Homo sapiens: one gene and its partners. The protein of the gene in region 1 interacts with the protein of each later gene in a biochemical or structural test. Each region holds a gene or a part of one and is shown on either strand. Other genes may lie near its edges.

What was found.
Region 2: of the proteins of AKAP13 (region 1) and PRKACA, one has a biochemical effect on the other in vitro, tested with the Homo sapiens proteins (one study listed by BioGRID).
Region 3: the proteins of AKAP13 (region 1) and RXRB form a complex in vitro, tested with the Homo sapiens proteins (one study listed by BioGRID).
Region 4: the proteins of AKAP13 (region 1) and PPARA form a complex in vitro, tested with the Homo sapiens proteins (one study listed by BioGRID).

The regions. Positions count from the first base shown.
Region 1 is NC_000015.10:85,575,591-85,579,602, forward strand, and holds part of AKAP13 (A-kinase anchor protein 13), read left to right. Parts: intron 1-3,339; coding exon 3,340-4,012. UniProt on the Homo sapiens protein: Scaffold protein that plays an important role in assembling signaling complexes downstream of several types of G protein-coupled receptors.
Region 2 is NC_000019.10:14,103,751-14,107,762, forward strand, and holds part of PRKACA (cAMP-dependent protein kinase catalytic subunit alpha), read right to left. Parts: coding exon of another isoform or gene 3,961-4,012; intron 3,660-3,960; coding exon 3,598-3,659; intron 3,139-3,597; coding exon 3,010-3,138; intron 1-3,009.
Region 3 is NC_000006.12:33,192,644-33,195,444, forward strand, and holds the end of RXRB (retinoic acid receptor RXR-beta), read right to left. Parts: coding exon 2,720-2,801; intron 2,408-2,719; coding exon 2,302-2,407; intron 2,187-2,301; coding exon 2,039-2,186; 3' UTR 945-2,038; downstream 1-944. UniProt on the Homo sapiens protein: Receptor for retinoic acid. Retinoic acid receptors bind as heterodimers to their target response elements in response to their ligands, all-trans or 9-cis retinoic acid, and regulate gene expression in various biological processes.
Region 4 is NC_000022.11:46,233,843-46,237,854, forward strand, and holds part of PPARA (peroxisome proliferator-activated receptor alpha), read left to right. Parts: intron 1-1,290; coding exon 1,291-1,538; 3' UTR 1,539-4,012. UniProt on the Homo sapiens protein: Ligand-activated transcription factor. Key regulator of lipid metabolism. Activated by the endogenous ligand 1-palmitoyl-2-oleoyl-sn-glycerol-3-phosphocholine (16:0/18:1-GPC). Activated by oleylethanolamide, a naturally occurring lipid that regulates satiety.

The DNA of each region.
Region 1 (4,012 bases):
CTGAGGCAGGAGAATGGCGTGAACCCAGGAGGCGGAGCTTGCAGTGAGCCGAGATCACGCCATTGCACTCTAGCCTGGGCAACAGAGCGAGACTCCGTCTCAAAAAAAAAAAAACTTTCCTGGCCAGGCACAGTGGCTCATGCCTGTAATCCCAGCACTTTGGAAGGGCCAACACAGGTGGATCACTTGAGCTCAGGAGTTTGAGACCAGCCTGGGCAACATGGAGAAACTCTGGCTCTACAGAAGTTAGCTGGGCATGGTGGCGTACGCCTATAGTCCCAGCTACTTGGGGGTCTGAGGCAGGCAGATCATGTGAGCCTGGGAGGCAGAGGTTGCAGTGAGCTGAGATGACACCACTGCACTCCTGCCGGGGTGACAGAGCAAGACCTTGTCTCAAAAACAGAAAAAGAAGGACTTTCCCCAAAGATTCTGAGACCTGTAAAGCAGTATTAGCAGTATTAAATGTTACCACTTACAGATCAGAGCTAGCATTAAGGTTGTAGCCGTAGGGGGACTGAGAGGTTTTTTTCATTGGTTTTGGGAATAATGGAAGACACACATTTCAGGTACAGAAATATGCAACAACTAGAACTAAATTTCTGGCATAAAAGGATATTTGTCTGTGTTTGGCTTAACTTTACAAAATGAAAGAACCAACAGTTTCTGAGATTGTTGCCAAAGAACAAGAACCAAATTTAATCAGGAGTATTTTTACAACTATTTTAGTGGCGATGATATGTACCATTTAAATATAGTGTTACTATATTTAAATCAATAGTTGTATGGTACAAAGATAGCTAAAAAAAACAGAAAAGATTTTATAATCCACTCAAGTCTTCAAGATAAAGTTGTTGCCAGACATAAAAACATTACAGACTCCCTGTTAGCATTTATTACGAATAACATAAACGTCATATGTGTACATCTCTCTTGGGCATAACATCTGAAAGGCTGTGTTTAGGTAATTTTTCCACCCAGTTTATTTCAGAGCTGATTTGATTTGGAAACCACTGGACAGTAATTTCATTTAAGGTCAGCTCAATGCCAGAGGCTTCTTTGGGAGCATGCATTATTTGAGACCAGCAAGCCAAGAAATTCCATAGGGTTATGTGATGCTCCCACTTTTGTGTTTTAGAATTGTGTTTGTTCCAGAGCACGTGACATTTCATTTTCCTCTGAATGGACTTCTAGGCAATCAGGTTTTTCCTTAGAGCTCTTTTTACTAGGTGAATGGTAGTTCACTTGAAAATATAGTTTTGCAGGTACCAAAGCTACCTGCCAAGATATGGAAATGGTTGGCAGGCAAATACGAGAAATTAAAACTGTGGGAACATACATGTGCTACTTTCTTTAGGCAACACTACTTGTTTCGCCAGATTTCTGTTTTATAATGTTTACCATTTATTAAATTTAATGACTTCATTTCCTGATTTTTAGGAGACTGTCGTACTCTCAGCAGGACTGGAAATAAGCTAATTTTGAATACTCTTAAGGAGCCTAACACAGAAGCTTTTAGTGAAAGTCCATTTTGCTTGTACACTCTACTAGAAAGACTTTAACAAGCATGACACATTTTACACTTGTACATATAAACTTTTACAATAGGCTCAGTAGGTAGATAGGAATGGTCTGATGATGGAACCCTGTAAGTGCCCAATATATTCACTGAGTGAGTAGGTGAATGAGAGGATGGATGGCAGTAGGTATGCATATTATTGCAGTAGATCAGGTAATGAATGAATGGCGAGCAAACCAGATGTTTGGAAAAATAGATTTTAGGTGTTGAGAAAATATTTTTATAAGAATTTTTGAAATTTTGATATAAAGGTAAAATCACTAAAGATCACCTGTATTTGTTTTTCTCCATTTTAAACCTTGCTGCATGCACATGGGATTTTTGCATATTTATAAACTTAGATTAATAATTTTTTTCTAATTGCAATATGGTCCTCATAGTTAATAATGGCTAGTATTTCTTCCATCAGTTTTATGAACCTTGATTTTCTTAATCATTCCCATGCTGTTGGTTATATCTGTTTATATTTTTTAAATACTTTAAAGTTGCAAAATCCATTTTTGAGATTACATATAGTATCCATAATATACTCTGACAGTATATAGGTATATGTTCTCATTTATTTTATATTTAATATGTTCTGATTTTATCAAAAGGTGAAAGAATATCTGCCATGCCACTGTTCCTGAAATTATGACCCCATAACTCGATGGTTAAGTTAGATTGGTTGGAACATATTTTGGGGATTAAAGGACACTGAACTCAGTAAGTATTTAGGGCACAGGCACATTGGCTGCACCTTGTAATGGAAAAGAGCTAGGATTTGTTTTTACTTGTATATATGAGGCAGGGTGTAAGTAGACTCTGCCCTTCTGAAGACAATGAAAAATATAGGTGGGACACAGTGGTGTAGGCCCTATAATCCCAGCACTTTGGGAGACCAAGGTAGGAGGATCCCATAGGCTCAGGTGTTGGAGAACAGCCTGGGCAACATAGTGAGACCCCGTCTCTACAAAAAATAAAACAATTAGTCAGGTGCAATGGTGCACACCTGTAGTCCTAGCTACTGAAGAGGCTGAGGCGGCAGGGTCACTTGAGCCCAGGAGTTCAAGGCTGCGGTGAGCTGTGATCACACCACTGCACTTCAGCCTGGCCTCAGAATGAGAGAGCCCACCTTAATGTTAGCAGCTCAATTGAAGATATTCACTGAGCTTTTTAAAAATCAGGTTTTTGAGACTCTTTTATTTTTATTTTTTTTAAGACGGAGTTTTGCTCTTATTGCCCAGGCTGGAGTGCAGTGGTGCTGTCTCGGCTCACTGCAACCTCCGCCTCCCGGGTACAAGCAATTCTCCTGCCTCAGCCTCCCAAGTAGCTGAGATTACAGGCATGCACCACTACGCCCAGCTAATTTTGTATTTTTAGTAGAGACAGGGTTTCTCCATGTTGAGGCTGGTCTCGAACTCCTGACCTCAGGTGATCTGCCTGCCTCAGCCTCCCAAAGTGCTGGGATTACAGGCATGAGCCACCATGCCCGGCGAGACTCAGTTTTCATCTACTTCCTAAAATAAGTTCAAAATTTAGAAAATAGATATTTCATATATCCTAATCTATTTTGAACATCCCAGTATATAGGCAGATATGAAAGGAAAGTAATATCAGAAATAAGAGGAAATTTATTTGTATTCTTTTAGATTCGCTTATCATGTGACCTTAGAAGAGCTAGAATAGAAGTGAGTTCTGTCCAACAGAATTTTTGCTCAGAGGTGTCAGTGACATCTTCTCCTACAGGCAGTTTTTTAAAAGTGTATTTCATTTCCTCCTAGAAAACAAACCTCAAGCAGATGGACAGTCTTATGCCCTTAATGATGACAGCACAGGATCCTTCCAGTGCCCCAGAGACAGATGGCCAGTTTCTTCCCTGTGCACCGGAGCCCACGGACCCTCAGCGACTTTCTTCTTCTGAAGAGACTGAGAGCACTCAGTGCTGCCCAGGGAGCCCTGTTGCACAGACTGAAAGTCCCTGTGATTTGTCAAGCATAGTTGAGGAGGAGAATACAGACCGTTCCTGTAGGAAGAAAAATAAAGGCGTGGAAAGAAAAGGGGAAGAGGTGGAGCCAGCACCTATTGTGGACTCTGGAACTGTATCTGATCAAGACAGCTGCCTTCAGAGCTTGCCTGATTGTGGAGTAAAGGGCACGGAAGGCCTTTCGTCCTGTGGAAACAGAAATGAAGAAACTGGAACAAAATCTTCTGGAATGCCCACAGACCAGGAGTCCCTGAGCAGTGGAGATGCTGTGCTTCAGAGAGACTTGGTCATGGAGCCAGGCACAGCCCAGTATTCCTCTGGAGGTGAACTGGGAGGCATTTCAACAACAAATGTCAGTACCCCAGACACTGCAGGGGAAATGGAACATGGGCTCATGAACCCAGATGCCACTGTTTGGAAGAATGTGCTTCAGGGAGGGGAAAGTACAAAGGAAAGATTTGAGAACTCTA
Region 2 (4,012 bases), on another chromosome or scaffold:
AGTATCTAAAATATAAATTAAAAAACTGACACCAGCTGGGCATGGTGGCTCACGCCCGTAATCCCAGCACTTTGGGAGGCCCAGGCAGGTAAATCGCTTGAGCCCAGGAGTTTGAGACTAGCCTGGGCAATGTAGCGAGACCCCATCTCTACAAACAACAACAAGGACAACAAAAGCAATTAGCTGGGCATGGCACGACTATGGTCCCAGCAGCTCCAGAGGCTGAGGTGGGAGGATCATTTGAGCCCAACTGCACTTCAGCCTGGGCAACAGAGCAAGACCCTGTCTCAAAAACAAAACAACCAGGCCGGGTACGGTGGCTCACGCCTGTAATCCCAGCACTTTGAGAGGCCGAGGCAGGTGGATCACGAGGTCAGGAGATCGAGACCATCCTGGCTAACATGGTGAAACCCCGTCTCTACTAAAAACACAAAAAATTAGCCGGGTGTGGTGGCGGGCGCCTGTAGTCCCTGCTACTCGGGAGGCTGAGGCAGGAGAATGGCATGAACCCGGGAGGTGGAGCTGGCAGTGAGCTGAGATCACACCACTGCAGTCCAGCCTGGGTGGCAGAGCGAGACTCCGTCTCAAAAAAAAAAAAAAAAAAACAACAACCAGCCAGGCCAAAATGGTGAAACCCTGTCTCTACTAAAAATATTTAAAAACTGGCCAGGTGTGGTGGCTCACGCCTGTAATCCCAGCACTTTGGGAGGCCGAGGCCGGTGGATTACAAGGTCAGGAGATGGAGACCATCCTGGCTAACACGGTGAAACCCCATCTCTACTAAAAATACAAAAAATTAGCCAGGCGTGGTGGTGGGCGCCTGTAGTCCCAGCTACTCAGGAGGCTGAGGCAGAAGAATGGCGTGAACCCGGGAGGCAGAGGTTGCAGTGAGCCAAGATCGTGCCACTGCACTCCAGCCTGAGCGACAGAGCGAGACTCCATCTCAAAAAAAAAAAAAAAAAAAATTAAAAAATTAGCTGGGCGTGGTAGCCGGCGCCTGTAATTCCAGCTACTCAGGAGGCTGGAGCACAAGAATCGCTTGAAACCCGGAGGCAGAGGTTGTAGTGAGCTGAGATCATGCCATTGCACTCCAGCCTGGGCAACAAGAGCGAAACTCCATCTCAAAAACAAAACAAAACAAAACAAAACAAAAATTAAACTCTTGATGCAGGTACTGGTGACTTTCAGGCATGGTTGGAACAACTTGGGCATGTGAATCTGCTTTTTCAACTTCCCTGCTTTTTCTTATCTTTCCAGGAAAAATTTACCATCAGAGTTGAGAACTGTTGTAAGCATACAATAGACACTGGATTTTAAAGATACTTCAGTACAGAAAAAAAGGAAATATTTCCGAAGTCATGGAGGACTGGGAAAAAAACAAAAGGAATGTAAAATGTTTCATTAATGATATTTTCACATTGATAATATATGGAAAGGGTAATACTGTAGATATACTGGCTTAATTAAAACATATCATTAGGCCAGGTGTGGTGGCTCACATCTGTAATCCCAGCACTTTGGAAGGCTGAGGCGGGCGGATTACCTGAGGTCAGGAGTTCGAGACCAACCTGACCAACATGGTGAAACCCCAAGTCTACTAAAAATACAAAAGTTAGCTGGGCGTGGTGGTGGCACCCATAATCCCAGCTACTTGGGAAGCTGAGGCAGGAGAATCACTTGAACCTGGGAGGTGGAGGTTGCAGTGAGCTGAGATCACGCCACTGCAGTCCAGCCTGGGCGACAAGAGTGAGACTCTGTCTCAAAAAAAAAAAAACATAAAAAAAAGCCCCAAACATGTCATTAAAATGAATTTCATGAATGACACCTGTTTCTTTCATTTTCTCTTTTAATTACAAACTTTGGGTGTTTTTTTAGAGATGGGGTCTGGCTGTGTTGTCGAGGCTGGAGTTGAACTCCTGGGTTCAAGTGATCCTCCCACCTCAGCCTGTCTAGTAGCTGGGACTACAGGCGTGCGCCACCGTGCTTGGCTGTTTTTACTGTTTATGATGGAGCAAACAGAAAATTTAAAATTGCTTCTGTGGCTCAGGTTACATTTCTGCTAGTTACATTGCTGCTTTATAGCAGTGCCTGGTATAAAGTCCGATCACAAAAATATTTACGGGAAGAAAGTGCACATAAACACCACTTCCCCCAAGAGTGCTCTTGTTCTCCTCCTGTTGGGCTGGTGTCTGACCCTGTGTCACAGTGCCTGGCTTTGAATCCATGGCCGGCCTGGAGAGGGAGCTTTGGGAAGGCGGCACAGGGCCCTTCTGACCCCTGGGGCTGGCACATTATGGGGGCTCGGGGAATAGTGGGTGAGCCTGGCATGGTGGCTCATGCCTGTAATCCCTGTGCTTTGGGAGGCTGAAGTAGGAGATCACTTGAGGCCAGGAGTTCAAGACCAGCCTGGGCAACACAGCAAGACCCCCTGTCTAAAACAAAAAACAAACAAACAACAAAAAAAAATTAGCCAGGCATGGTAGTGTGCGCTTGTAGTCCCAGCTACTCAGGAGGATCTCTTGAGCTCAGGAGTTTGAGGCTACAGTGAGCTATGATCACGTCACTGCACTTTCCTGCTTGGGCAACAGAGCAGGATCCTGTCCCCCACAAAAAAACCAAGCGGCCAGGCGCGGTGGCTCACGCCTGTAATCCCAGCACTTTGGGAGGCTGAGGCAGGTGTATCACCTGAGGTCAGGAATTCGAAACCATCCTGGCCAACATGGCGAAAACCCATCTCTACTAAAAATACAAAAATTAGCTGGGTGTGGTGGCAGGCGCCTGTAATCCCAGCTACTCGGGAGGCTGAGGCAGGAGAATCGCTTGAACTAGGGAGGTGGAGGTTGCAGTGAGCCGAGATCACGCCACTGTACTCCAGCCTGAGCGACAGAGCGAGACTCTGAATCAAAAAAAAGCAAGTGAGTGAACGGGTGGATAGGGCACTCTAAGGAGTGGGCACAGTCCAGGCAAAGGCCTGACAGGCAGGCCCTGAGCGAGGACAGGCCACCTCACCTTCTGTTTGTCGAGGATCTTCATGGCATAGTGGTTCCCGGTCTCCTTGTGTTTCACCAGCATCACCCGCCCGAAGGAGCCCGTGCCGAGGGTCTTGATTCGTTCAAACTGATCCAAGTGGGCTGTGTTCTGTGGGCAGAGGGGTCGGTAGGCTCAGGGCACGCCCTCCCCGCGGCCTGCTTGGCTAAGGTCTGGGGCATCCCCTCTGCCACCGGCAGAGGGGGCCCCGGGGAGCACGTGGGGTCAGCGGGGTGAGGACAGGGGGCGGAAAATCAAGATGGCAGAGGGCACATTCCTTAAGGCGGGTGGCAGGGGCCAGATCCGGCCCTGGCCTGGGGCCTGGAAGCTGCTGGCAGCTGTGCTGGGGGCAGGGGCGGGCCGTTGGGAGGGGTGGTGGGATGGGGGTGCCTGGCATTGGGCAGTCAGGTGTCTCCACACAGGAGCCCCCATGGGCACCTAGGGAGCAAATGGGGAGGGTCTGAAGCCTTCTATGGGGTTTCTGAAATTCTAGCTGTGTTGCTGGGACACAGCCAGGGGCTGGGGGTTAGCAGCTCACCCCTCCCTGGGCTCTGCACCCGGCAGCCTTACCTGAGCGGGACTTTCCCATTTTTTAAGAAAATCTTCTTTGGCTTTGGCTAAGAATTCTTTCACTGAAAGGGAGAGAGGGGAGAGTTATACAGAGACGCCCGTCTCACCGGGGTGGGTTCAGGTGATTTCTGGGGAGATACTTGGTGGAAAGTGGGGTGCAGTTCCAACCCAGAGCCTGACCTTTTTCTGGTGCCTCTGGGGCCTTGGCTGGGCCGTGGCCTGGGCCTCCCTTGCTACAGAGAGGTGGGATCCAGCTGCCACTCCATCCAAAGTGGGGTACAGAGAGTCTCAGGGGTCACTCGCAGGGGAACGGAGGGAGGTGCCCAGGCAGACCAGCCCACCCCCACTCGCCCCAGTTCTGACCGACATTCCATGGCCAGGGCCGACGCCAGCCGAGGTATTTATAGCCTTGGGA
Region 3 (2,801 bases), on another chromosome or scaffold:
CAACGGCCTGTACCCTAAGATTCTCTTTTCGGGAACCCCAATATCTTCCCTAGCCCCTTCCTTTTCTAGGACCCAAACGTCCAGTCACACACACTCCCTCCCATTCCCTCCCTCTTGGGGGCCCAGAGCCCCCTTTCAGCAGAGGCCTGGGCGGGATTTAGGGCACAGTGGGAGGGGGAGAGGCGGGCCTGGGGGTCGCAGTCCCCACCCCACCCATAATCAGGTCTCCATAATTACTTCCCTCACCCCGCCCCGTGTAATTACAGAGCCGGGCCGGGGCGGGGGTATTTATAGACAAGGCTATAGATAGCGACGAACTGGGGCGGGGGATGTGGGGGAAGGTGTTCTACGGAGAGCAAGAGGCCAGAGACTGGGACCCACCGACAAACACAGGATAGTCAGGTCCAAGGAGATGCAAATGGGGGACGCGGTTAGGGAGTCCCAGAGCCGAGGTAGAGGGGGAGCAGTGGTAAGATGAGCGAGCAGTCGACTCTGGTTGGAAGGGTCCAGGGAAATGGGGTCACTCGGGGACGTGGGCCGCCTCCGGGCGGGCAACGCCTGAGAAGCACGCAGCGCTCGGCGCCCAGTGCGCCCCCACGAGCGGGCACGGCGCCGGGTCTGCCCGGAGCCCGCAGCGCGCCCGGAGGGAAGGCCGCAGCGAGCCGAGGCGCCGCCGCCCGCTGGCGCGGAGAGGGCACGAGCGAACAAGGCGCCTTTGAGAATCCACCGCCCCCCCTTCCTCCTCCGGCCGGCCCCGCCCCCAGCCTGGCACACCCTCTCCCCCCCTCCCCGACAAAGCTTGCCTTGTGTCCCCCACCCTGCGTGCACCTCTTGGGCCCCACGGAACCTCGGCGGCGGCGTCCAGGGATCGCGTCCGGAGCTCCCAACCGGATACCCCCCCCAAGCCCGAAACGGCGCTGCCCATCCTCATACAGTCACCTCAGTCCAGAAAACAGCGATTTTAATTTGAAAGCGATTTTATGTATGAGAGGGGAAAGGAGCCCCAAAGAGAAGGGACGCAGGGCAAAAATCATGCAGCCCCAGCACCCCACCTCTGCGGGCTGGCCACCTCCCCTCAATTCTCAGGCCAGGATCCTGTGTCCCCAGCCTATGCTATGTGCCCAGGGCTGGAGGAGAGCTGTAAAGGGAAGGCCTCCGGGACTACACTCGTGAAACCATCCCCTGTGGGGGCCCTGTCCTCACAGCCCAGGCCCCTTCCCCAAGTTAGACAGGAAGAGATAGGGGGGGCGGCGGGAAGCTGGGAAGGCTAGTGCTTGGAGAGCCCTAGGGACAGGCCATTTCAGGGCCCTGCCTTTCCCAAACACCCACCTCCACCACTGGCATTTCTTAGTCAACCTGGGAAAGTACAGTACTTCTTTGAGTCTAACTGCAAGTCTCTATCCTCACAGGAAATTAAAAATAGCAGATCGGTTCCTACATCTCCACCAGCCCCTTCACCACCACCACCACCTTTTTTATATTTCAGTCTGACTGCAGAAGGAGGTGAAGTGTAAAAAGAGACTCTGGACAGTGACAGGGCCCCTCCCTCTTCCAGAGAGGCCCCCATCTGCCAGGTTTGAGAGGAGGAAGGCCTGTCAGGGCCCTACTCTCATGTCCATCAGCTTGGGAGGCCTGCCCCCCAGTATCCACCTCTGGGGGAGTTCCCCATTTCCACTCTTCAGATGGGAAGCAAAATGAGGCAAGATGAGAAGGAAGCAAGGTCCTGGAGGCAAGGCCAGTGCTTTGTGCTGGGGGAAGGACAGAGGGTGAGAAATCACCCCAAATCATGGGAGAACCCGACAAATTCAGAGACTCAAGGCCACCGAAGAGAGACAACCAGTCCTCACAGGTATCTGGGGTCCCTTCCAACTTGGGATATCAAGCAGATCCCTTGGAGGGTTTATGTTCTTGGTTCTGCCCTGTACTTCTCACCCCATCAAGGTTCTGGGAACATGGCCCCCCACCCTGCCCCAGGGCTTGGAGTCCCTCTTGGATGTGTGCTCCTCCAGTGTGAGAAGCACCACGTCTGGGTCTGAGCTCAGGCCAGTTGATGGGGAGCCTCAAGCATCTCCATGAGGAAGGTGTCGATGGGGGTGTCACCAATGAGCTTGAAGAAAAACAGATGCTCTAGACACTTAAGGCCAATGGACCGGAGGGCAGGAAGACGTAGCAGCAGCTTGGCAAACCTGGGGTGGAGGTGGGAGAAGGGGATTGAGAGCTGGAAGCACACGGGCCCTGAACACATCCTCATAGCACTCCCCACCCCCAAGGGAGCCTCAGTGCCCCCCAGCCCCATCTCACCGTCCCTGCTGCTCAGGGTACTTCTGTTTGCAGTAGGTCTCCAGTGATGCATACACTTTCTCCCGCAGGACCTCCACCTCACTAGGGTTGGAGAGGCCCTTGGCATCTGGGATGGCAGGGAAGAGAGGAGGAAGAGAAATGAAGACAAACCAAATCAGGATGGCCATGCAGATGTGAGCCACAGGATGCCCCTTTTGGGCTGCACTTGCTTGCCCTTTACCAGAGGCCTGGCAAGGGAAGCAGGGCCCACTGGGTTTGTGGGATGGATCCGTGGATGTGGGTTTTTCCTCGGCCAGTTGGGAGATTTCCAGGTTGAGGGTCTTACTGAGGGGGATAGCTGGGTAACTTAGGAGTCTCGGAGAAGAGGAGGCTCCAAGGTTGCCTTGGCCTTGAGAGACAAAGGTAATCCTCCTCTTACCTGGATTAAACAGAATGATTGCCCTCAGGCAGCCAAGCTCTGTCTTGTCCATCCTCATGTCACGCATTTTGGACACTAGCTC
Region 4 (4,012 bases), on another chromosome or scaffold:
AGACAGAGTCTCCGTCTGTCACCCTGGCTGGAGTGCAGTGGCACGATCTCAGGTCACTGCAACTTCCGCCTCCTGGGTTCAAGTGATTCGCCTGCCTCAGCCTCCTGAGTAGCTGAGATTACAGGAACATGCCAGCACACCTGGCTAATTTTTGTATTTTTAGTAAAGATGGGGTTTCACCATATTGGCCAGGCTGGTCTCAAACTCCTGACCCCGGGTGACCCACCCACCTCGGCCTCCCAAAGTGCTGGGATTACAGGCATGAGCCACTGCACCCGGCAATAATTCCTCTCTTTAGAGACTTAATAGTTATAGCCCCAGCCACTCTGGAGGCCGAGGCAGGAGGATTGCTTGAGCCTAGGAGTTCCAGTCCAGCCTAAGCAACAGAGCAAGACCCCATCACTAAAACAATACAAAAACAAGAATTTTAGAAATAAAAACTTAATAATTACATTTACAACCAAAAACAATGAAGATGTTTAAATCCTCATCACTAGCAACCCTGTTAAGAATCATAGTAATGACTGGGTCTGTAAGGGAGCACCGCCTGCTGAACATGGCTCAGGGCAGTATTTTCTGGACCAAGAATCAGGTCTCATGCTTTGAGACTGTCCCAGGATGTCTAGTGCCAGCTACCCCAGGCAGGTCATCTGGTGTGAATGTTGACTCTTCCTGCACCAAGTCTCAGACCTGCCCCACCCTCCTCCCCACTCTGGGTCTCCTGATCTTGGCTCACTGCAATCTCCGTCTCCCAGGTTCAAGCGATTCTCCCACCTCAGCCTCCCGAGTATCTGGGATTACAGGCGTGAGCCACCGTGCCTGGCCTACAAAACCTAGTTCTAACACAATCACTCCTTAAATATGGTGGAACACTTGAAGCTTGATATCTAGTTTGGATTCAAAAGCTTCATTTCCCATATTATGCAAAACTGGTGGTTGTGATCTCCAGAATGTACTGTTCCTCCTACTAGCTCTAATTTTTCTCCCTGACAGGTGGTCATCAGGTAAATCACAAGTGAAAAGGCCGCACCATAAGGTGTACTTAGGGCACTATTGCCGCCTAGTAGTATGAATATTTAGGAAAGAGTACTGGTCCTGTCTGTCCCTACTTCACCTATTGACTTTGGAAAAACCTATGTCTATCTTCCAGTCAAGTTGACAATATCTAAAGGCAGCTCAGTTTTTTTCTAAGAAAGGCCACATAAAATAGGCATGTTTGGTTCCTGAAACTGATAAGCAGTTCTTGGGTGATTATCACACTCAAACCTCTCTCTCTTCTTTCGAGACTAGATCGTCCTGGCCTTCTAAACGTAGGACACATTGAAAAAATGCAGGAGGGTATTGTACATGTGCTCAGACTCCACCTGCAGAGCAACCACCCGGACGATATCTTTCTCTTCCCAAAACTTCTTCAAAAAATGGCAGACCTCCGGCAGCTGGTGACGGAGCATGCGCAGCTGGTGCAGATCATCAAGAAGACGGAGTCGGATGCTGCGCTGCACCCGCTACTGCAGGAGATCTACAGGGACATGTACTGAGTTCCTTCAGATCAGCCACACCTTTTCCAGGAGTTCTGAAGCTGACAGCACTACAAAGGAGACGGGGGAGCAGCACGATTTTGCACAAATATCCACCACTTTAACCTTAGAGCTTGGACAGTCTGAGCTGTAGGTAACCGGCATATTATTCCATATCTTTGTTTTAACCAGTACTTCTAAGAGCATAGAACTCAAATGCTGGGGGTAGGTGGCTAATCTCAGGACTGGGAAGATTACGGCGAATTATGCTCAATGGTCTGATTTTAACTCACCCGATGTTAATCAATGCACATTGCTTTAGATCACATTCGTGATTTACCATTTAATTAACTGGTAACCTCAAAATTCGTGGCCTGTCTTCCCATTCACCCCGCTTTTGACTATTGTGCTCCTTTATAATTCTGAAAACTAATCAGCACTTTTTAACAATGTTTATAATCCTATAAGTCTAGATGTATCCAAAGGTGAAGTATGTAAAAAGCAGCAAAATATTTATTTCAAAGACTTCACTTCTGTTTCCTGAATCTAAAGAAAGACAACATGCTGCTTTTTAATCATAGGATGGAGAATTTTAAAGAACTGTTTGGGCCAGGCACAGTCGCTCATACTTGTAATCCCAGCACTTTGGGAGGCCGAGGCGGGTGGATCACAAGGTCAGCAGATCGAGACCATCCTGGCCAACATGGTGAAACCCTGTCTCTACTAAAAATACAAAAATTAGCCGGGTGTGGTGGCACATGCCTGTAATCCCAGCTACTCGGGAAGCTGAGGCAGGAGAATTGCTTGAACCAGGGAGTTGGAGGTTGCAGTGAGCTAAGACTGCACCACTGCACTCCAGCCTGGTGACAGAACGAGACTCTGTCTTAAAAACAAACAAACAAAAAAAAAATCTGTTAGATAAGCTATCAAAATGCAGCTGTTGTTTTGTTTTTGGCTCACTGTTTTCGTGGTTGTAACTAATATGTGGAAAGGCCCATTTCCAGGTTTGCGTAGAAGAGCCCAGAAAACAGAGTCTCAAGACCCCCGCTCTGGACTGTCATAAGCTAGCACCCGTGGTAAGCGGGACGAGACAAGCTCCCGAAGCCCGCCAGCTTCCTGCTCCACTCAGCTCCGTCCAGTCAACCTGAACCCACCCAGTCCAGCTGTCTGTGGGAATGGTGGTGTTCTTAGGGACAGACTGACACCTTACTTGTCAGTGTTCCTCCGGGCCCCATTTGGCAGCTCCCGTATCTTTTGTTATGTTGCTTTTAAAGATATGATGTTTTATTGTTTTAACTCTTGGTGACAGTAGATGCTCTCTGGAGCGCAGACGAGGCACATGTGTCTTCATAGCCTGGGCTGGGTGGGAGCCAGTCACCCTGCGGATCGAGAGAGGGGGTAGAGTCTTCTTCAAATGGCAGTTTTACTTCAAATGGCAGATTTCACAAGAGTTGGTTATTTTTTACAATGGTTTAGGTTGTTAAGTCTCCTTTGTATGTAAGGTAGTTTTTTCAACATCTAAAATTTTTGTTTTAGCCTTCAAAACCAACTTACCAACCTCAGTCCAGCTGGGAAGGCAGCGTTGATTATGGTAGTTTGTCAAGAATATATGGACCTGGAAACACTTTCTCTCTCTGTCCACCTGGTAGATAAATTGTCCTGTTGAGAATTTTTAGATCTGGACTGGAACTGCCAGGACCACCGCCTCCAGGGAGTCGCTGGGCACCTGGAGGTATCGTCGATGCCTCTCCCCCATCTTTAGAAAATTTGGCTCTTCTGAGGTCATTATTATTTTAAGAATGATTAGGATTGATAAGGGTCCCATGACCAGCATTATGAAAATGCGAGAGTGGGAAGGACACAGTGTGAGACTTCCACTAGAAAAAAGTGAAAGTTAGGGTTAGGACATCCTTTTTTAAAAATTACAAATTTAGTCCGTTTTGGTTTTTGTAATCAGGCTAGGCACAGTGGCTCACACATGGAATCCCAGCACTTTGGGAGGCCGAGGTGGGAGGATCACTTGAGCCCAGGAGTTCGAGACCAGCCTAGGCAACATAGCAAGACCCTGTCTGTACACAAAATTTAAAAATTAGTTCATCGGGGTGGCACACATCAGTAGTCCCAGCTACTCTGCAGGCTGAGGTGGGAGGATTGCTTGAACCCAGGAGGTCGAGGCTGCAGTGAGCTGTGATCTCACCACTGCATTCCAGCCTGGGTGACAGAGTTAGATTCCACCCTCTCCCACCCCGGCAAAAAAAAAAAAAAAAGATGCAATCAAAGGGGCTGTTGGCCAGCAATGGCAGCAGCAGCGGCGGGCAGTCTGCCCAAGTGTCTTAGGAACCAAAAGCAAATAAAAGTGTTTCCATATATGCCACCAGCCAAGTGGCCATCCTAATTCAGAAAGAAGCTAGCCTTTGAGTGTCTGTCATGGTGCATCCGTTTCAGTATTATTTCCTAAAATGAGAAGCCCCTGTGTCAACAAGATCCAGGGGCTG